3 linked regions of the Homo sapiens genome follow. The protein of the gene in region 1 interacts with the protein of each later gene in a biochemical or structural test. Each region holds a gene or a part of one and is shown in the gene's direction. Other genes may lie near its edges.

Region 1 (7,633 bases):
CCGTCCTCTCTTGAGTGACTGATGGAGGGCTGTGACATGGTTGCTCCGGTACCTGCTGGCAGAGGGGCAGGCAGCCCACCTAACCTGGTCCTTACGCCATCAGACCATAGCAGCCACCAAACCCAGCTACATGGTGACATTCAGATTGGTGGCCCTTTTTCCTGTCAGCTACCCGGGCACATCTAGCAGTCTTGAGGATTGGCAGGTCTGGTGGGAAGAAGAATTCATTCTTCTTCTTCTTTTTTTGACACAATGTCTCACTCTGTTGCCCAGGCTGGAATGCAGAGGCAGGATCATGGCTCACTGCAGCCTTGACCTCCCAGGCTCAAGTGATCCTCCCACCTCAGTCTCCCTAGTAGCTACTAGAATGTGTGTATTTTTGACAGAGATGGGGTTTCTGAGCCGTGGGCTTCTTTCTCCTTCCGGCAGTGTTGTTCCCAGTGCTGGGACACCAGTGTGGGAGCTTTGTGGTCAGCTTGCGGGGAGGGTGTTATGTGCAATATTTAGAACTAAGGTCCTCCCCAGCCTGTTACCCCAAAGGGCTCCCTGATTGGTGAAGTGACTGCTGCCTTTCTTCATTGTGGCTGAAACCCTTGTGCGTGAACAGTAAAGTGAGGGGTCAGTCTGCGAGCGGATTCAAGAATCTGAAGAGGGAAGCCAGGTGCAGTGGCGTGCGCCTGTAATCTCAGCTACTTGGGAGGCTGAGCAGGGAGGATGGCTTGAGCCCAGGAGTTTGGGGCCAGCCTGGGCCACATAGTAAGACCCCATCTCAAAAAAACAAGAATCTGAAGAGAAGTTTAAGCAGGCTTCTCTCTAGGCACAGCCAAAGGATTCTGCTAAGGGTGAGAAGACCCAATCACGGATCTAAGAAGAACCCCGTTGCATCTGTTAGAAGTATTCTTGAGCTGGCTGGGCGGGGTGGGCCTACTGCTTCTGGAAAGTTCCTTCTCTTTCAGGACAGGTTCAGAATATAGTAGTGCAGAATATAGTTCTGGGGCCAGTAACAAATTTGACCAATGAAAAATCTTGGCTGGGTGCAGTGGTTTCTGCCTGTAATCCCAACACCTTGGGAGGCTGAGGCAGGTGGATTGCTTGCAGCCAGGTGTTTGAGACCAGCCTGGGCAACGTGGCAAAACTCCATATCTACAGAAAATACAAAAGTTAGCCAGGTGTGGCGGTATGTGCCTGCAGTCCCAGCTACCCTGGAGGCTGAGATGGGAGGATCACCTGAGCTGTACTCAAGTCTGGCGACAGTGAGACCCTTTCTAAAAAAAAAGAAGAAAAAATTCTCCAGCTTGTCTTGTGTTTAGTTTCCCTTCTCTTTCCTCATAGTTGCTTCCCAAAGGCCTCGTGCTCCTTCTCAGGGCATTTTCCCGTTTCCCTCTGACCACTTCTCTTGAAGCCCCTAGAGTGTTCCTGGGTCTTAAGCTTTGAGTTGTGTTTGAGGACTGTACCCGAGTTCCATATGTGGACTCTTCCGTGTTGACCCTGTAGCTCCAGGAGTCAGGCAGACGGTCTTGGACCTACGATTTGTCAACTTTGGCGACAGGCATTTGCTAGAAGCCCCCTGCTCTCCTCGTGTGGAGGCAGCACGTGCGAGGCGGTGAGCTGCAGCTCCCAGTCAGCTGCGCGTTTTCCACCGAGGGTATTTTCCCTTTACCATGGGTTTATCAGGATGTAGCAGCTGCTGCTGCTGGGATTCCTACCACCCACTGTTGCTGTGTGTCCTCAGCACGGCCACTGCCATTCTCACTCTGCCTCCTTTAGGTTAGGCCTTGGCAGTGTGGGAAACACATCAGCCGAGAGTTGGTGCCCAGCATGCACTCGAGGCCACCCTCATCCAGGCCCCGTCTGCCTTTCCGAGCTCACCTTCCACAGTCTTCCCCCGCTCCACTCTCCGCCCTCTGATGGCCCATGCTGTCCCACGGCTGCTCCCTCTGTCTGCCCCACCCCCTCCAGCACTCCCTGTGCTTGGCTGCCCAGCTCGGGCTGCCTCCTCCAGGCGGCTGCCCCTATCTGCTGTTGGGAGGAGATTCCTCTGCCCTTTGAGTGTCCTCGACACTTTGTGGGTCCATGAGAATCCTTATTTTTCTGCTGTGTATTTTCTTTCCCTTTGTTCTTTGTCCTCCTGGACTAGAGCTCTCTGAGGTCTTGGCAAGCCTCACAGCAACTAGAACAGCCCCTAAGCGTGGTGTGCCTTGGTGACAGCACTGTGCCTTGGGAAGCTTATGGCAGAATGGCCACCCGTGGAGCACGGAGCCGCCCAACTGTCATCGCTGTCCTGAAGGGTGAGGTGGGCCTGGGCTCTGCTGCCAGGACCCAGCTGAGGCTTTCTAGTTCTCTCTCCTTCTACCGTGGCAACCGTCTCCTCATCCCCCTGCCATCTCCACCGCCGCCAGCAGTCTTCAGAAGCATCGGTCTTCCCGGGCCACTCTCTGTTGGGCCTCAGGGTGGTTGACTCATTGCTCTGTAGGATGCAGTCGAAACTGCTAGAGTTGACTGTGAGACCAGGAACTGGCAGCCGCGAGGGCTGTCTGTCCTTCCCTCCAGGAGCAGTGCCGTCGCCCTCCACCTACTGCGCTTATTCTTGCCCATCCATCGGTTTCAGCTTACGCGTCCCCTCCTCAGGGATGCCTTCCCTGGTCCCCGCACCCGACTCCACTTCCTCCCTCCGTGCTCTGCTGGCACTGGCGCTTCTCCTCTGCAGCCCTCCCTGCAGGTGTGGTTGTGTCTGTAGAATTGTTTTCTGCCTGGCTGGCTGCCTGGTTCACAGCCCGGTGCCTGGCACAGAGTCCCCACTCCTTGTTAACGGAGGACTGGACCCCACCGTGAGTTGTTGCTGTGCTCTGAGCCAGAGGAAGGGAGGCGTGGAAGCTTCCCTGGCCCTCCAGGGTCTGCTGGTGCTCTCGGCTTTGCGGTCGTTTCTCTTTATTGATCAGGGTTTTCTGTGCCCTGAAGCCACTGAGTCAGGTGTCATATAGAGCATATCAAGAACTTGAAGCCAGGCCAGGCACATGGGCTCACACCCGTAATCCCAGCACTTTGGGAGGCCAAGGTGGGAGAATCTCTTGAGGTCAGGACTTCAAGACCAACCTTTGTAACATAGTGAGACCCCATCTCTACAAAAAATAATTAGCCAGGCATGGTGGCACACAACTGTAGTCCTAGCTGCTCCGGAGGGTGAGGTGGGAGGGTCTCTTGAGCTCGGGAGTTGGAGGCTGCATTGAGCTATGATCACACCACTGCACTCCAGAAAAAATAAAAATGTAAAAGAACTTGAAGCCAGGACTTGGGGCGGGTGCTCTGAGTGCAAAAGACAGAAGATGCTGTTATCCAAGGGGTAGAAGCAGATTTGGGGACCCTGGACTTCTCTCTGCACTCAGCAGGATGTGTGACTTGTGAAGCCTGGTGTGAGACTGGCCCTCTGCCCTGGGGGCCTTTCTGCCAGGTCCCTGGCCCGCTGACTCACGCCCCCTTCCTTACCCAGGAGAGTCGCGGTTGCTGATCGTGGTGCTTGAGTAGAGCCGTGGTTGGTGACAGCATGACGAGCGAGGTGATAGAAGACGAGAAGCAATTCTATTCCAAGGCCAAGACCTACTGGAAACAAATCCCACCCACGGTGGACGGCATGCTTGGGGGGTATGGCCACATCTCCAGCATCGACATCAACAGCTCCCGGAAGTTTCTGCAGAGGTTTTTGAGGGTAGGCAGGTCTGGCGTGCTCTCCAGGAGAGGCTGTGGCTCTGGTGGCACTGCCGAGTCCATGTGGGGTGCCACCTTTTACACATGTAACACTGCAGGATTGTTGGCTATCTCTTGGTACCTACCCCAAAGCCTTGAGGAGCTGGGCTGGGTGGGCACAGTGGGGTAACTTCTAGATTGTGGACTTAGCCTCAGGGTTACCAGACAGGAGCTGGCTGTTAGGCAGAATTGAGGTGCCTGAATTGGGCAAACCTCTCTTCAACTGTTGGGTTTTGCCAGGGACGAAACCCTTGCTCTCCTGCCATGTCCACGGGTGTTTGGACTGAGGGTGTTGGCTATTCTGGACGAAGACTCCTAGTTATGTGCCATGGTTTCCACCCTCTGCTCCACCCCCAGCCTTTTCTGTACCAGGCTGGGACCCCCAGTCCTGGAGCCCCCCACCTTCTTGTCTCATGGCTGGCACTGGAGGCTGCTGTTGGCCACCTGCTCCATCCAGCGCCTCCCCTCCCTCCATGTTCCCTCTCTGCACCCTTGTTCACCTGTTGCCCCGCTTCCATTCTCCCCATTCCTCTCTGCCGTTGTTTACCTGGAGACTCAGGAGAGATTAGTGCACCTGTTCAAGTTATCACCTTTAAGTGGAAATTAGCTTTCATTTAGAAATGTGTGGCCCAGGGCAGGGGCAGTGGCTCACTCCTGTCATCCCAGCCCCTTGGGATGCCAAGGTGAGAGGATTGCTTGAGCCCAGGAGTTTGAGACCAGCCTGGGCAACAGACCGAGGCCCCGTCTCTACAAAAAATACAAAAAAAAAAAAATGAGTTGGGCATGGTGGCGCATGCCTGTAGTCCCAGCTACTTGGGAGGCTGAGGTGGGAAGATGGAGGATGGCTTGAGCCCAGGAGTTCGAGGCTACAGTGAGCCATGATCCCACCACTGCATTCCAACCTGAACAGAATGCAGAATGCAACCTGAACTTTCAAAGATAAAGGAATGTGTGGCCCAGCAGTGTGTCCTCCCATGCTCATCCCCTCGACTCCGTACAAGCTGGCAGCCAGCACAGACCTCCCCACCAGTGCTCAGCTTGTGCGGAGTCCTGGAATCCTGACTTGAGTCTAAGTCCTAGGGCTCGTGAGGAAGGGCCGCACGTGCGGTGACAGGGTCCCTCTGATAGGTTATATGCCTCTGCTTTTCAGGAAGGCCCGAACAAGACAGGAACGTCCTGTGCCCTGGACTGTGGAGCTGGCATTGGGAGGATCACCAAGCGGCTGCTCCTGCCGCTGTTCAGAGAGGTGGATATGGTCGACATAACGGAGGACTTCCTGGTTCAAGCCAAGACCTACCTGGGGGAGGAGGGCAAGAGGGTGAGGAACTACTTCTGTTGTGGGCTCCAGGACTTCACCCCGGAGCCGGACTCTTACGACGTGATCTGGATCCAGTGGGTGATAGGTGAGGGTTCCACCGCCCTTCCCTGCTCACCTGTATGTCTCCTGCCACTCGCGTTCCCCATAAGGTGTCAGGACCAGGGCTTTGCACTCCTGCAGCAAGTGGGCCAGTGAGGATTCCCCACCCCGCCCAGGCCCACCCCCACCCCGTACTTCCCAGGACTGAGGGACAGGCTCGGCCTAAAAGGTAGATTTCTTCCTTCTAGGTTTTGTTTCAGTTGAATACCTGCTACCATCCATTTGGGTGCAGTTTTTTGTTGAAAAAATTTTAATGGCCAATAACTTACTGCATTCAAAGTGAGGAGTTTTATAAGGGTTTTATTTTTAATAAGATGAATAGTTTAAGCTTCGTGTCTAGCCCTGCACCCTCTTAGCCTAACAGCACACCTCGAGCGCTGTGCCCTGGGCTGCTGACGTGGCGGCAGGCCGCTAGCAGCAGTCGGCCACCTCCTGAGGCGGGCAGCACAGGCCTGCTGTGGACACTCTAGGTCTGGCCTTGTATTTTGTGGTCTCAGAAGCCTTTGTGGGGACTTCTAGTGTAGGGAAGGCAGTCTCTCTGGGAGCTCCTGCAATGCCAAACTCTTAGCCCAGGTTCACTCCTCCGATCCAAGCCTGGCAGGGGTGGGGCATCATGGTGTGTAGGTATCAGGCAGGACTTGTAAGCCATCCCGTCAAGTCAAATTCTGGCTTAATGTGTCTTTAGGTAGATGACCTCTGAGCCACAGTTTCCTATTCTATGAATTGGGGTTTAGTAAATCTCTCGGGACTGAGAGCCAATGAGGCCATGTGTGCACACAAAATGCTGGGCACAAATGAGGGGCTCAGCGGGGCTGAGAAGTACATCCCATCCAGTGCCGACATCCGCTTGCATGGTGCCCTGGTAACCTTGCCTCTGCCCTCCCCAGGCCACCTCACCGATCAGCACCTGGCCGAGTTCCTGCGGCGCTGCAAGGGCAGCCTCCGCCCCAACGGCATCATCGTCATCAAAGACAACATGGCCCAGGAGGGCGTGATTCTGGACGACGTGGACAGCAGCGTGTGCCGGGACCTTGACGTGGTCCGCAGGATCATCTGCAGTGCAGGCCTCAGCCTCCTGGCCGAGGAGAGGCAGGAGAACCTCCCCGATGAGATCTACCATGTCTATAGCTTTGCCCTGAGATGAGCCGGGGCTGGCAGGAGAAACTGAGGAACCACAGTCCTGGTGGGGGGAGCTGGCAGCTGGGCAAGATCCAGGCGCCACGCTGGCGGTTCGTGAGTGTCGAGGCACCACTAAATATAGCTGTCTGCCGTCCACTCATTATGCGGGCTCTTCTTCAAAAGGCAAGGTGGGACCCGGCGGGGAGGGTGCTGCTGAACCAGCGGTGAGGCAGGAGCCCAGACCCTGCTCTCCTGCGAGATGGGATTGGGTGGAAGGGGCTCCAGGGCTCCTGGTGCTCCCCATGTGGGAATAGGGTGGCCACATCAGTAACCGATTCCCTGGGCCTCCAGCCCGGCCTTCCAGCCATGGGCCTGGCTGCCTGAAGAGGAAGGAAACCACCCCCAACTTGGTTGCTGGGGACTTGAAGACTTCAGTGTGATCTTTACCTAGGGGAGGGACAGAGCTGGGCTGGTGGAGCCCATGGGTGCTGCCTGATGGTGCTGTGGGGTGGGTGCTCATGTGCCAAGTCCTGCTTGGCAGTGGAGACCTGGGGCCCTTAAAGTGTTACAACAGCCTGCAGCAAGGGAAGTTCCCCGTAGCCTCAGTCTTCTCTGGGCTTGAGGCTGCTCCTTGGCAGGCATTTAAAGTAAAAAATAAAATGGGGCTGGGCGCGGTGGCTCACGCCTGTAATCCCAGCACTTTGGGAGGCCGAGGCGGGCAGATCACGAGGTCAGGAGATTGAGACCATCCTGGCTAACAGGTGAAACCCCGTCTCTACTTAAAATACAAAAAAAAAAAAAATTAGCCAGGCGTGATGGCGGGCGCCTGTAGTCCCAGCTACTCAGGAGGCTGAGGCAGGAGAATGGGGTGAGCCCGGGAGGCAGAGCTTGCAGTGAGGTGAGATTGCGCCACTGCACTCCAGCCTAGGTGACAGAGCGAGACTCTGTCTCAAAATAAAACTAAAATAAAATGGGGGCCGGGCACAGTGGCTCATGTCTGTAATCCCAGCACTTTGAAAGGCCGAGGCAGGCGAATCACCTGAGGTCAGGAGTTTGAGACCAGCCTGACCAACATGGCGAAACCCCGTCTCTACTAAAAATACAAAAATCAGCCAGGCATGGTGGTGGGCACCTATAATGCCAGCTACTCAGGAGGCTGAGGCAGGAGAACTGCTTGAACCTGGGAGGCAGAGGTCGCAGTGAGCCGAGATTGCACCATTGCACTCCAGCCTGGGTGACAGAGTGTCTCGAAAAAAAAAAATAATAAAATGGGACCTCCACACTGTGGAGGCCCTTGCCAGTCTAGAGTGGTGCTTCTTTGCAGGGACTTGGAAACAACCCCCCAAACACAGCATC
Region 2 (7,633 bases), on another chromosome or scaffold:
AGGCTCTGTCCAAGTGGCATAGGGGAGCTTAGGGCTCTGCCCCATGATGTACAGTCCCTTTCCACAACGTTGAAGATGAAGCTGGGCCTCGTGTCTGCGCCTGCATATTCCTACAGCTTCCCAGAGTCCTGTGGACAATGACTGGGGAGACAAACCATGCAGGAAACATATCTAGTATACTAGATTTTAAGTTGAAGTAGGATCTTCAGGAGTCTAATCATTATTTCTTTTCTTTTAGGAGAGAAGACGATCTGCACTTCGCATTTTGGCATTGACATTTAATTTTAGGGTCCTTTATATAGAAGGGAGAGTAGGTAAACTGATTTTTTTTTTTAACAGGGAGGGTTTGACAATCTTTGGCAGACTTGGAGCAAAAGATTGAGGTGCATTTCATGCCTCCTTTTGAGAGTCTTGCTCTGTCGCCCAGGCTGTAGTGCAGTGGCGCAATCTTGGCTGCAACCTCAGCCTCCCAAGTAGCTGGGATTACAAACATAAGCCACCACGCCCAGCCCTCATACCTCTTTTAAAAGTCGACCTGTTTTGCAGAAAGTCTGCTGTTTTTGTACTAAAGGCTTTGGAATTTGGCATTTAGCTAGGAATGCACATTCTTTCACCTCATTCATACTTTAAGAACCACAGAAGTGACTCTGCTTGGCCAGAAGGCACACTGTGTTGGTGGTTATATTAAAAGTCCTTGAGTATTTTGCTTTTCATGATCTTGCTCACTGCAACTTCCGCCTCCCAGGTTCAGGCGATTCTCCTGCCTCAGCCTCCCAAGTAGCTGCGACTACAGGCGTGTAGCACCACACCTGGCTAATTTTTGTATTTTTAGTAGAGATGAGGTTTCACCATATTGGCCAGGCTGTTCTCAACTCCTGACCTCGTGATCCGCCCACCTCAGCCTCCTAAAGTGCTGGGATTACAGCTGTGAGCCACCCTGCCCGGCCACTTTTGTATGATTTCTAATGTATTTGTAATTTACCTAACAAATTGCCTAATCTGCTATGTTAATGTATTTATGAATTAAAATAAATACGACTGCATGTTTGTGGTTCATTTTTGTGGAGGTGGCTGTGGTGACATCAGCCAAGAATCTGAATGGTACTGTTGAAGGAAACTAGCATGATAGCTTCAGTTCTAAAGGCCCTGAAACCTAGTCTCAGGTGGGTCCCCCTTGGGTTCACTTTATATTGGCAGTTTATTGGGAAAATGGATATTAGGTCCTGACCAATAGGACCGTAAGTCTGGGTTGAGTGCAAGATGAGTTAGACCGATTCTTTAGCTTCCTGCAGTGTAGTGGAGGAAAAATCGATGGTAGCAACGGGAGGTTGTATCCCTAGCTGATGAGTTGTATGAGCCTCTACTACCTGGCGCACCTCCGCCTGAAGATTGCCAGAATTGCTTGCCTCATGACGTGAGTCACAATGGAAACTTTGTCAAGCCCCCTGCACTGGCTGCCAACATAAATGTTCAGTACCCTGAAGGATGGGACTGAAGGGGGATCATCTAGAAGGTAAAGTTACCTACTGGCATAGGGGAGGTGGGACAGCCGTTAAGCCATTTGGAACTTGATGGAGACAGGTTTGAGGGAGGTGGGTGAGATTGGAGTTTGGTGGACTGTAGAGCTTGCTTGCCAAGGTGTTGAGGTCAGGGTTGGTTTGAGAATGGAAGCTAGTTACTAGCTATGATTGTGGGGGAACACAGCTTGATTTTTCTTACAAGCTAAGAGGAGTGAGGCAGTGTTTAAGAGGGCATGTTAAATGCAGCCAGGCTTGGTGGCTCACACCCGTAATCCCAGCACTTAGGCTAAGGCAGGCGGATCACAACATCTAGAGATCCTGGCCAACGCGGTGAAACCCTGTCTGTACTAAAAATACAAAATAACTGGGCATGGTGGTGTGCACCTGTGGGAGGCTGAGGCAGAATTGCTGGAACCCGGGAGATGGAGGTTGTACTGAGCTGAGACCTTGCCACTGCGCTCCAGCCTGGTGACAGAGTTAAGTCTCAAAAAAAAGGCATCTTCCTAAAGCAATTGTATTTGTGCTTACCTGTGCCAGGCACTGTTCTAGGTAAGCACTAAGTGGGCTTTAATACAGCATATTCCAATGGGGAATCCCAGGAACCAAAAGACTAATTGTCCAAGTCCACAACTAGAAGTGGCACCTCTGCAGAAACAAGCATCAAATTCCCTGCTCAGGAAGAAGCCAGATGAGTCAGCCCCATTCGTCTGTATGCCCAGTCCCATCCGTGTCCTGCTGTAACTACATAGATCTCACCTGAGTAAAGTGATTTTTTTCTGAACCAGTGGTTTTAGTATGTTTTCAATCCATATACTCAGGTGGGTTTGGGTAACTGCAGTGCTGGGCAGGAAATGAATGAATTTCTATTGACTTGCAAGGTAGAGGTGAAGCAAAGCTGTCAGTAGGTGTTCAGGTCCCACTCTGCTAAACTTCAGCTTGCAATACCCCTTTTTTAGACTTTCCAAACAGGCACTTCTGGCCTTGTTCTTTGTGTAGGCAGACAGTATTGGTTGCCTATCTTAGGAGTACTAGACTGGGTTTGAATCCTGATCCCACCACTTGCTGTTCATGAGACTTTGGGTGAGTTACTCAGCCCCTCTGCCTCAATTTCATGTTCACAAAATAAGTGATAAACTACCTCATAGAGTTGTAATAAGGACAAAGGAGTTGGTATTTGTGAAAAGATTCTTAGGGTCTCTAGATGGAGTGCAGCAGCATGATCACTTATTAAATAACATTCTTTTGTGACTTCTCAGAAACCAAGGATACAGTATCCAATTTTTTGTTTTTTGTTTTTTTTTTTTTTTGAGAGGGAGTCTCGCTCTGTCGCCCAGGCTGGAGTGCAGTGGCACAATCTCAGCTCACTGCAAGCTCAGCCTCCCCAGCAGCTGGGACTACAGGTGCACGCCGCCACACCCGGCTAATTTTTTTGTATTTTTAGTAGAGAAGGGGTTTCACCATGTTAGCCAGGAAGGTCTCCATCTCCTGACCTCGTGATCCGCCCACCTCGGCCTCCCAAAGTGCTGGGTTTACAGGCGTCAGCCACCATGCCCAGCTTTTTTTTTTTTGAGATCTAATCTCACTCTGTCTCCAGGAGGGAGTGCAATGGAGCCATCTTGGCTTGCTGCAACCTCCACCTCCCGGGTTCCAGCAATTCTCCCACCTCAGCCTCCCAAGTAGCTGGGATTACAGGCGCACGCCACCATGCCCGGCTAATTTTTTTTGCATTTTTTAGTAGAGACGGGTTTCACCATGTTAGCCAGGCTGGTCTCGAACTCCTGACCTCAAGTGATCCACCTGCCTCAGCATCCCAAAGTGTTGGGATTACAGGCGTAAGCCACTGCGCCTAGCCTCAAGCCTGATCCTTTTTTTTTTTTTTTTTTTTGAGATGGAGTCTTTGCCTCCCAGGCTGGAGTGCAGTGGCGTGATCTCAGCTCACTGCTACCTCTGCTTCCTGGGTTCAAGCGATTCTCCTGCCTCAACCTCCCAAGTAGCTGGGATTACAAGCGCCTGCACCGCACCCGGCTAATTTTTGTGTTTTTTTTTTCAGTAGAGACAGGGTTTCGCCATGTTGGCCAGGCTGGTCTCAAAACTCCTGACCTCAGGTGATCCACCACGCCCGGCAGAGCCTTGATCTCTTAACCACTATCCTCACCTCCCCTTTCCCTAAGGATCCACAATGGCCTCACTGGCTCTTGAAGGCAGGCTGGCACCTTGATCATTCTTCCTGGTCATTAGTATTCTGATCTGGTTATTTTCCATTTTATGTCCATCTAACCTACTTGGAGGATCCTCAAGAGACTGCATATGTAAACTCAGTACTTATTCTTGTACTGTGCCTGCCATATAGCAAGCACTGGCTGATTTAATTTTTCTGTGTTCTTTTTTATTGATTTGTTTTTATCTTTATTATTTTCTTTGCTTATTTTGGGGTTAGTTTGCTCATCTATTCCTAGTTTCTTAAGCTAGTAGCTGAGCTCATTGATTGGAGACCTTTCTTTTTTTCTAATGTAGGCATTTAGTGCTATAAATTTCCTCCAGATACTGTTAACAACACACAAATTCTGGTATGTTTTGTTTTCATTTTAATTCATTTCAAAATATTTTTGAGTTCCTTTTCTATTCTTTGATCTATGGGCTACTTGAAAGTGTATTATTGTTGTTGTATTAGTGTTGTTCAAATCTATCCTTGCTAGTTTCTTTTTTTTTGGAGACTGCGTCTCCAAAGGCTGGAGTGCAGTGGCACAATCTTGGCTCACTGCAAGCTCCGCCTCCTGGGTTCACACCATTCTCCTGCCTCAGCGTCCCCAGCAGCTGGGACTACAGGTGCCTGCCACCATGCCCTGCTAATTTTTTGTAGAGATGGGGTTTCACCATGGTCTCAATCTCCTGACCTTGTGATCCACCCGCCTCGGCCTCCCAAAGTGCTGGGATTACAGGTGTGAGCCACCGCGCCCAGCCTCTTTTTTTTTTTTAGACAAGAGTCTCACTCTGTTGCCAAAGCCAGAGTGCAGTGGCACAATCTCAGCTCACTGCAACTTCTGCCTCCGGAGTAGCTGGAATTACAGTCACGCACCACCACGCCCAGCTAATTTTTTTGTATTTTTAGTAGAGATGGGGTTTGCGCGGCTGAAGTGCAGTGATGCGATCTCAGCTCACTGCAACCTCTGCCTCCCAGGTTCAAGCAATTTTCATGCCTCAGCCTCTGGAGCAGCTGGTACTACAGCATGCACCACCATGCCTGGCTAATTTTTTTGTATTTTAGTAGAGATGGGGTTTCACCATGTTGCCCAGGCTGGTCTCAAACTCCTGAGCTCAGGCAGTCCGCCTGCCCTGACCTCCCAAAGTGCTAGAATTACAGGCATGAGCCACCGTGCCTGGCCTTATTTTAAAATTTTATTTCTTGTAGGTAACATGTTGGGTTTTTCAGTATGACAGTCTATGTCTTTTAATTGGAGTGTTTAGGCTATTTACTTTTTTTTTTTAAGACAGGGTCTCACTCTGTCACCCAGGCCAGAGTTCAGTGGCAAGATTATGACTCACTGCAGCCTTAAACTGGAACTCCTGGGCTCAAGCCATCCTCCCAGCTCGGTCTCCTGAGTAGTGAAGACCACAGGCATGTGCCACTATGGCTGGCTAAATTTTGTATTTTTTGTAGAGACAAGGTCTCATGATGTTGTCCCAGCTGGTCTTGACCTCCAGGGCTCAAGCAATCCTCCCACCTTGGCCTCCCAAAGTGCTAGGAATACAGGCATGAGTCACCATGCCCAGCCATATTATACATTTTTAACTTACAATAGTCCACATTCAATTGATATTAAACCAGTTCACTTGTAGTATAAGAATCTTCCCCAGCCTGGCCAATATGGTGAAACCCCGCCTCTACTAAAAATACAAAAAAAAAAAAATTAGCCAGGTGTGGTGGTGCTCGCCTGTAGTCTCAGCTACTTGGGAGGCTGAGGCAGAAGATTGCTTGAACCTGGAAGCAGAGGTTGCAGTGAGCTGAGATCGTGCCAGCCTAGGCAACAGAGCAAGACTCCGTCTCAAAAAAAAAAAAGGCGGGGCCCGGTGGCTCACGCCTGTTATCCCAGCATTTTGGGAGGCCGAGGCGGGCGGATCACGAGATCAGGAGATCAAGACCGTCTTGGCTAACACGGTGAAACCCCATCTCTACTAAAAATACAAAAAATTAGCCGGGCGTGGTGGCGGGTGCCTGTAGTCCCAGCTACTAGGGAGGCTGAGGCAGGAGAATGGCATGAACCCAGGAGGTGGAGCTTGCAGTGAGCCAAGATCGCGCCACTGCACTCCAGCCTGGGCGACAGAGCGAGACTCCGTCTCAAAAAAAAAACAAAAAAAAAACCTTCTGGCGGCCTGGTGTGGTGGCTCACACTTGTAATCCCAGCACTTTGGGAGGCTGAGACTGGCGGATCACCTGAGGTCGGGAGTACAAGACCAGCCTGACCAACATGGAGAAACCCCGTCTCTACTAAAAATACAAAATTAGCCGGGCATGGTGGCACATGCCTATAATCCCAGCAACTCGGGATGCTGAGGCAGGAGAATTGCTTGAACCTGGGAGGCAGAGGTTGCAGTGAGCCGAGATCATGCCATTGCACTCCAGCCTGGGCAACAAGAGCAAAACTCCATCTCAAAAAAAAAAAACAATCTTCCGGCTGGGCACAGTGGCTCACGCCTGTAATCCATCCCAGCACTTTGGGAAGCCAAGGCAGGCAGATCACGAGGTCAGAGCGAGACTCCGTCTCGAAAAAATAAATAAATATTTCTTCCATTTCTCACTATATAGTCTTTGATATTGTCATGTGTCTTACTTTTATATATGTTATAAAACCCACAGTACATTATTACAGCCAGAACCTCCATATCAGCCAGTTGCGATGGCTCACTCCTGTAATTCCAACACTTTGGGATGCCAAGGCAGGCTGACTGCTGAGGCTCAGAAGTTCAAGACCAGCCTGGCCAACATAGTGAAACCCTGTCTCTACCAAAAATACAAAAATTAGATGGGCAATTAGCTGGACGTGGTGGTGCACGCCTGTAATCCCAGCTACTCGGGAGGCTGAAACAGGAGAATTGCTTGAACCCAGGAGGCAGAGATTGCAGTGAACTGAGATCACGCCATTACACTCCAGCCTAGGCAACAGAGTGAGACTCCGTCTCAAAAAAAAAAATTAGCTGGGCATGGTGGTGCACATCTGTGGTCCCAGCTACTCGGGAGGCTGAGGCAGAGGTTGCAGTGAGCCGAGATCCTGCCACTGCACTCCAGCCTGGATGACAGAGTGAGACTCTTGAGACAAACAACTGGGGCTGGGCGCAGTAGTTCACACGTGTAATCCCAGCACTTTGGGAGGCCGAGATGGGTGGATCACTTGAGGTCAAGAGCTCAAGACCGGCCTGGCCAACATGGTGAAACCCTGTCTCTATTAAAAATACAAAAATGAGCCGGGCATGGTGGTGCGTGTCTGTAATCCCAGCTACTCTGGAGACTGAGGCAGGAAAATTGCTTGAACCCAGGGGGCAGAGGTTGCAGTGAGCCGAGATTGCACCACTGCACTCCAGCCTGGGCAACAGAATGAGACTCCATCTCAAAATAAAATAAAAAATACAAATACAAAACTAAAAAAATAAAAATAAAGGCCAGGTGCAGTTGCTCATGCCTGTAATCCCAGCACTTTGGGAGGCCAAGATGGGCAGGTCACCTGAGGTCGGGAGTTCCAGACCAGCCTGGCAAAAATGGTGAAACCCGGTCTCTACTAAAAATACACAAAATGGCCAGGCGCGGTGGCTCACGCCTGTAATCCCAGCACTTTGGTAGGCTGAGGCGGGTGGATCACCTGACGTTTAGGAGTTCAAGTCCAGGCTGGCCAACATGGTAAAACCCCGTCTCTACTAAAAATACAAAAATTAGCTGGGCATGGTGGCAGGCGCCTGTAATCCCAGCTACTCAGGAGGCTGAAGCAGGAGAATTGCTTGAACCCAGGAGGAAGAGGTTGCAGTGAGCTGAAATCGTGCCATTGCACTCTAGCCTGGGCGGGTCAGGAGTTCGAGATCAGCCTGGCCAACATGGAGAAACCCCATCTCTACTAAAAGTACAA
Region 3 (7,633 bases), on another chromosome or scaffold:
GCCTGGGCAACAGAGCGAGACTCCATCTCAAAAAAAAAGAATTGAAGCCCCTTCTTACCACATTGACCTCATCTTACGCCATTGTCTTTTCTCACTTCTATGCTGTAGCCACACCAGCTGTTTCTATTCCTGAAACCGGGTCTCTGTAATTGCTGTTCCCTTTGACTGGAGTGCTTTTCCCCCATGGTCTTCTCATGGCTGGCGTCTTCTCTGCAGGTCTTTGCTGATTCTACCTCTTCAAAGAGGCTTTCGCTGGTTGTCCTTACTCATAACGTAGATCCCACTCCTCCACCGTCATTCCCTGTATCATTACCCTGCTTCATGTTTCCCCCAAGTGTTGATGGGTGTCTGAGATCTGATGCTTATTTGTATGTTTGCCCACTGATGGCAGGGACCTTTCCTTTCTGGTTCACCATCCTATTCCCAGTGCCTGGAACAAAGTTTGGCCTAGAGTAGCTGCTTTATATTTGTTGAATGAGTGAGGGGCTTGAAGTGTAATTGAGCAGATGGGATGTATACATACGAGGTAATTAACAATACAGATGCCAAGTGCTACAGAATGTGAAAGAAGGAAGAACCCCTTGTGAATTGGAGTCAATAAAGAAGACTCCATGGATGAGCGAGGAGGAGCAGTATTAGATAAATGGAGAGAAAAGAAGGAAAGACATAGTGTGACTGGGTGAGGTTTGGCACAGAGTTCTTGGGAATGGTCTTTGTTGTGCTAGAGTTTATCATCCATTGCTGAGGGGTGAGTGTGTCGTCCCCTCTAGGACCTTTAGCCAGCCCAGCTGGTGGCTGACATTGGAGGGCTGTGCTGTGAAAAGTGACACTGGGTTTAGAGCAGGAGTCACAAACTTATAGGGCTCCAGAAGCCAGAGTGGAAAAAAAAAAAAAAAGAATGTATGGTGGTAGGGTCAGGGGTAAACTAGAGATGACTGTTGTGCAAAAATGTAGGTCTTTTGATATCAGATGTGATTTTTCTCAAACAAAGACACAAATCCTCATTTTTTAAATGTCATATATCTTGAGTTTTAAAAAAAATTGTAAAATACACGTAACATAAAATGTATCACCTTAACCATTTAAAAGTGTTTTTTTTTTGAGGCGGACTCTCGCTCTGTCACCCAGGCTGGAGTGCAGTGGCGCAATCTTGGCTCACTGCAAGCTCCGCCTCCCGGATTCATGCCATTCTCCTGCCTCAGCCTCCCCAGCAGCTGGGACTGCAGGTGCATGCTGCCACGCCTGGCTAATTTTTGTATTTTTAGTAGAGATGGGGTTTCACCGTGTTAGCCACGATGGTCTCTATCTCCTGACCTTGTGATCTGCCTGCCTCGGCCTCCCAAAGTGCTGGGATTACAGGCGTGAGCCACCGCCCCCAGCCAACTTTTTAAAAAATAATGATAAAATACATATAACATGAAATTTACTTTCGTAACCATTTTAAAGTGCACAGTTCAATGGCGTTGGGTAAATTGTGTAAGCAGTCTCCAGAACTTCATTATTTTTTTTTATTTTTATTTTTTGAGTCTCATTCTGTCACCCAGGCTGGAGTGCAGTGACACAACCATAGCTCACTGCAGCCTCCACCTTCCTGACTCAAGGAATCCTCCGGCTTCAGCCTCCCATGTATCAGGGACTACAGGTACGCACCACCATGCCTGGCTAATTTTTAGAGATGTGGTCTCTCTATATTGCCCAGGCTGGTCTCAAACTACTGGCCTCAAGCAATCCTTCTGTCTTGTCTTCCCAAATTGCTCGGGATTACAGGGCTGAGCCACTGTGCTGGGCCTCTAGAACGTCTTAATATTGGCACTGAATGAAACTAAACACACGTCTCAGCCGAATTCTGCTTCAGTCCACTATTTTTCTAGCTCTGGTTTAAAGGTAGACATGAGGGGGAACCCAGGAGGAGGTCTCTTTATTTATTTATTTGTTTATTTTTTTGAGATGGAGTCTCACTCCGCCGCCCAGGCTGGAGTGCAGTGGCGCAATCTCGGCTCACTGCAAGCTCCGCCTCCCAGGTTCACGCGATTCTCCTGCCTCAGCCTCCGAAGTAGCTGGGACTACTGGTGCCCGCCACCACACCCGGCTACTTTTTTTATATTTTTTAGTGGAGATGGGGTTTCACCGTGTTAGCCATGATGGTCTCGATCTCCTGACCTCGTGATCCGCCCGCCTCGACCTCCCAAAGTGCTGGGATTACAGGCGTGAGCCACTGCACCCAGCCAGCAGGAGGTCTCTTAAGTGGAGGGATTTGGAGAGCAGACCACCAGAAAAGGCCAGGTTAGACAGGTGTGGGAGACTGGAATTCAAAGTGTGAGATGGGTGTTCAAGGAACAAGTGCCAGAAGCCCCCAGAAAGGCAGTCAGAGGAGTGCCGCGGACAGAGTGGGGTAGGTTTCCTGCCCAGCTAAAGAGGCAGGTGACCGCTAATAAGGCAGCTTGAAGTTGAAGTCAGAACCCAGAGCTCAGACAGGAAGAAATTTGTTTTCTTGTTTTCTCCAGGAGTCTAGGACATGGGAATAGAGGAATTTAGCTTATGCCTGGAGATGGGAAGAAGCAGTGTAGGGTATTCTAGGGGAAGAGCTTCCTGACTAACAGGATAATGACAAGTGCTTTGAACTTGTGCCAGACTGAGATTGCTTTTTTTCTTTGTTGCATCACCTTATGACATGCGTGTAACCTTCTTTACAGTGTAAACTTTCTTTACACTGTAATGAAGATTGGTCTAGGCATTGAATTTTGTGGCTTGCATTTGCAGGGAGCTAGGTTGGAGCAGAGGAAGGGTATGGCAGTCTGGAAGAGACCTGTCTGGTTTTACTCCCAGATGCTGACAGCAGAATGCTGATTTGAGACCAGTTACTGGAGGAGCAACAGTGCCTCATTTTGTCACTTCTTTAGTCATCTGACCTTGGCTGTGACCTTTACATTCTTCAGGCCCTTGGCAAGGGAACATGTATTACAGTTTCACAATGAAGATAGCTTAATTTTATTCCTATTATAAAAACAATGTATGGGGCCAGGCGCAGTGGCCCACGCCTGTAATCCCAGCACTTTGGGAGGCCGAGGCGGGTGGATCACCTGAGGTCAGGAGTTCCGAGACCAGCCTGACCAACACATAGTGAAACCCTGTCTCTACTAAAAATACAAAAATTAGCCGGGAGTAGTGGTGCACGTCTGTAGTTCCAGCTACTCAGGAATCTGAGGCAGGAGAATCACTTGAACCTGGGAGGTGGAGGTTGCAGTGAGCTGAGATGGTGCCACTGCACTCCAGCCTGGGCGACACAGTGAGACTCCATCTCTCAAAAAACAAAACAGTGTATTCTTATCATAAAATACAGAGAAAAGTGTAAAAAATAAATTAAATATGATCCAAAATCCCCATTTTCAGCATCCCTCTGTGCATGTGTACACTATTTTTTTTTTTTTCCAAGTCTGAGTCTTGCTCTGTCGCTCAGGCTGGAGTGCAGTGGTGCGATCTCACCTCACTGCAACCTCCGCCTCCTGGGTTCAAGCTATTCTCCTTCCTCAGCCTCCCGAGTAGCTGGGATTACAGGCATGCACCACCACACCAGCTAATTTTTGTTTTGTTTTGTTTTTTTAAGACAGAGTTTCACTCTATTGCCCAGGCTGGAGTGCAGTAGCACGATCTCGGCCCACTGCAACCTCTGCCTCCTGAGTTGAAATGATTCTCCTGCCTCAGCCTCCTGAGTAGCTGGGATTACAGGAGCCTACCACCATGCCCAGCTAATTTTTGTATTTTTAGTAGAGACGGGGTTTCACCGTGTTGGCCAGGCTCGTCTTGAACTCCTGGCCTAAGGTGATCCACCTGCCTTGGCCTCCCAAAGTGCTGGCATTACAGGTGTGAGCCACCGTGCCCAGCCTGAATTTTATATTTTTGGTAGAAACAGGGTTTCACCATATTGGCCAGGCTGGTCTCGAACTCCTGACCTCAAGTGATCCGCCCGCCTCGGCCTCCCAAAATGCTGGGATTACAGGCACGAGCCACTGCACCCGGCCTGGGTTTTTAAAATTATATCTTTATTGAGGTATAGTGGACATAAACTGCAGCTATTTCAAGTGTACAATTTGGCTATTCTCAGCCTATGGGGTAGTCCTACTCCAGAGAAGCAGTAAGAAAAAAAGAATAAATTGTACAATTCCATGAGTTTTGACATATGTGTACAACTGTGAAGCCATCACCACAATTAAAATAACTCCCATTTCCCCACCCTTTGTTGAATATTTGGAGAGTGATAGATAGATGAGTTATCTATGCCCCTTTGTAATCCACCCCTCTCTACCCAATATCTTATTCACTGTAAACTGCTGATCTATTTTTTATTTTTAGAAATTAATTTACATTTTCTAGAACTATATATAAATAGAATCATAGAATATATGGTCTTTTATTTTTGTTCTAGCTTGTTTCAGTATAATTATTTGAAATTTATCTACATTTTTATGTGTAGTTTTTTTTTTCTTTCTGAATAATGGTTCATTGTTTTTTGTTTTAAGACAGGGTCTTGCTGTGTCACCCAGGGATGATCATGGTTCAGCATAGCCTCAACCTCCTCAGCTCAAGCGATTCTCCCACCTCAGCCTCCTGAGTAGCTGGCACTACATGCACAGGCCACCATACCTGGCTAATTTTAAAATTTTGTTATAGAGACAGAGGTCTCACTGTGTTGCACAGGCTGGTTTCAAACTCCTGGCCTCAAGCTATCCTCCTGCCTTAGCCTCCCAAAGTGCCGGGATTATAGGCGTGAGCCCCTGCACCCAGCCACATTGTACTGATATGATACAGTTTATTCATTTACCTGTTCAAGGACATTTGAATTTTTTTCTAGTTTTTGAATGCAACATATAAAGCGACTGTGAACATTCACGTACAAGTATTTGTGTGGATATATGTTTTCATTTTTCTTGGGTAAATACTTAGCAGTGGAATGGCTGGATTATAGAGTAGGAATGTTTTAAAGATACTTTTTAAATGAGAAAAGGTTTTTCTATTTGCCCACATATTGTCATTTCCAGTGCTTTCATTCTTTCATGTGATCCAGATTTCCTTTTGGTAATATTTTCTTTCTGCCTGAAGAAATTCCTTTCATATTTCTTATAATGCAGATTGGTGATAAATACTTTCCACTGTTGTTTATCTAGAAAAGTATTTTGCCTTTATTTTGAGGGAGGATGTTTTTGCTAAGTATAGAATTCTAGGTTCACAGTTTTTAAAATTATTTAACTTTTATTTTTTAATTGGTAAATTAAAATTGTATTTTATTGCATACAATATATTTGTTCACAGTTTTCTCCTGTCAGTACTTTAAAGATGATGTCTAGGCTGGGCGCTGTGGCTTACGCCTGTAATCCCAGCATTTTGGGGGGCCAAGGCAAGTGGATCATTTGCGATCATGAGTTTTAGACCAGCCTGGCTAACATGGTGAAACCCCGCCTCTACTAAAAATACAAAAATTAGCTGGGTGTGGTGGCGCTCACCAGTAATCCCAGCTACCCGGGAGGCTGAGGCATGAGAATCTTGAACCTGGGAGGCAGAGGTTGCAGTGAGCCGAGATGGTGTCACTGCACTCCATTCTGGGTGACAGAGCAAGACTGTGTCTCAAAAATAAATAAATAAGGCTGGGCGCGGTGGCTGACACCTGTAATCCCAGCGCTTTGGGAGGCCGAGGCAGGCGGATCACGAGATCAAGAGATTGAGACCACCCTGGCTAACACGGTGAAACCCTGTCTGTTCTAAAAATACAAAAAAAATTAGCCAGGCGTGGTGGTGGGCGCCTGTAGTCCCAGCTACTTGGGAGGCTGAGGCAGGAGAATGGTGTGAACCCAGGAGGCAGAGCTGGCAGTGAGCCGAGATCGGCCACTTCACTCCAGCCTGGGTGACAGAGCAAGACTCCGTCTAAAATAAATAAATAAATAAAGAATAAAAATAAAGATGATTTCTAGTTGGGCTCAATGGTTCATGCCTGTAATCTCAACACTTTGAGAGGCTGAGGCTGGGGGACCTCTTGAGGCCAGGACTTTAAGACCAGCCTAGGAAACACAGCAAGACCCCATCTCTACAAAAAAATCTTAAAAATTAGCTAGTGGCTTGAACTTGTAGTTCCAGCTGTTCAGGAGGCTGAGGTGGGAGAATTGCTTAAGCCCAGGGGGACAAGGCTTCAGTGAGCTAGGCAAGCCTGGGTGACAGAGCAAGATCCTGTCTCAATTAAAAACAAAACAAAACAAAACATCCTGATGAGAAGTCTGCTACTATCCTTATGTTCCTGTCTATGTAATTTTTCTTCTGGTCGCTTTAAAAATGATTATGATGTGCTTGTGGGGGGATCACTAAGCTTCTTTGATTTATGGATTTTTTTTTTCTTTTGAGACAAAGTCTCACTCTGTCGCCCAGGCTGGTGTGCAGTGCCACAATCTCGGCTCACTGCAACCTCCACCTCCAGGGTTCAAGCGATTCTCCCTGCCTCAGCCTCCCGAGTAGCTGGGATTACAGGTGCCCACCACCTCACCTGGCTAATTTTTGTATTTATTTATTTTTATTTTATTTTTTTAGTAGAGACAGGGTTTCACCATGTTGGCCAGGCTGGTCTTGAACTCCTGACCTCCAGTGATCCGCCCACCTTGGCCTCCTGAAGTGCTGGGATTACAGGCGTGAGCCACCTTGCCCAGCCCATTATTTCTTACAAAGAGTTCAAAATGAAGAAAAAGAACAGTTCTTTTTTTCTTGGGACTGCGATTACATATGGTCCTGCAGGTGGTTGATGCACTGTTCATTTTTGTCTTTTTCCCTGTTTCATTTTGTGCAGTTGTTCACTGATCTTTACTTCTGTAATATCTAACCTTCTGCTGTCAATCCCTCCCTCCCTCCCTCCCTTCGTTCCTTTCTCTCTCTTCTCTTCCTCTTCCTTTTCTCTTCTCTTTCTTGCCTGTGCAGAGCAGGGCTGCTCCATAGGCAAAGTAGCCCAGCGTATTTTTCATTTCAGATACTGTATATCCCCTCTAGAAGTTTAATTTGGATTTTTTTTCATGTCTTCCATTTCTCTCCTCATATTTATTATTTCCTCTTCTTTCTTTTTTGAGATGAGGTCTCACTCTCTCTTCCAGGCTGGAGTGCACTGGCATGAGATCTCAGCTCACTGCAACCTCCACCTCCCAGGTTCAAGCGACCCTTCTGCCTCAGCCTCCTGAGTAGCTGGGATTACAAGTGTGCACCACCACGCCCAGCTAATTTTTGTATTTTTAGTAGAGACCAAGTTTCACCATATTGGCCAGGCTGGTCTCAGACTCCTAACCTCAAGTTATCCACCCACCTTGGCCTCCCAAAGTGCTGGGATTACAGGCTTGAGACACTGCTCCTGGCCCGATCCTGTGTCTTTAAAAAAAAAAAAAAAAACTCTAACAAGTAATACTGCTTTTTTTAAAAAAAATTGTGGGCCAGGCTCAGTGGCTCACGCCTGTAATCCCAGCACTTTGGGAAGCTGAGGTGGACGGATCACAAGGTCAGGAGATCGAGACCATCCTGGCCAACATGGTGAAACCCCGTCTCTACTAAAAACACAAAAAATTAGCTGGGCATGGTCGTGGGCGCCTGTAATCCCAGCTACTGGGGAGGCTGA

Evidence for each region.
Region 2: the proteins of NTMT1 (region 1) and RCC1 interact in a biophysical measurement, tested with the Homo sapiens proteins (one study listed by BioGRID and IntAct).
Region 3: of the proteins of NTMT1 (region 1) and DDB2, one has a biochemical effect on the other in vitro, tested with the Homo sapiens proteins (one study listed by BioGRID).

The regions. Positions count from the first base shown.
Region 1 is NC_000009.12:129,629,163-129,636,795, forward strand, and holds the end of NTMT1 (N-terminal Xaa-Pro-Lys N-methyltransferase 1), read left to right. Parts: intron 1-3,487; 5' UTR 3,488-3,541; coding exon 3,542-3,703; intron 3,704-4,891; coding exon 4,892-5,144; intron 5,145-5,442; exon of another isoform or gene 5,443-6,045; coding exon 6,046-6,302; 3' UTR 6,303-6,973; downstream 6,974-7,633. UniProt on the Homo sapiens protein: Distributive alpha-N-methyltransferase that methylates the N-terminus of target proteins containing the N-terminal motif [Ala/Gly/Pro/Ser]-Pro-Lys when the initiator Met is cleaved.
Region 2 is NC_000001.11:28,508,592-28,516,224, forward strand, and holds part of RCC1 (regulator of chromosome condensation), read left to right. Parts: exon of another isoform or gene 1-171; intron 172-238; 5' UTR 239-314; exon of another isoform or gene 315-2,301; intron 2,302-7,633. UniProt on the Homo sapiens protein: Guanine-nucleotide releasing factor that promotes the exchange of Ran-bound GDP by GTP, and thereby plays an important role in RAN-mediated functions in nuclear import and mitosis.
Region 3 is NC_000011.10:47,217,862-47,225,494, forward strand, and holds part of DDB2 (DNA damage-binding protein 2), read left to right. Parts: intron 1-7,633.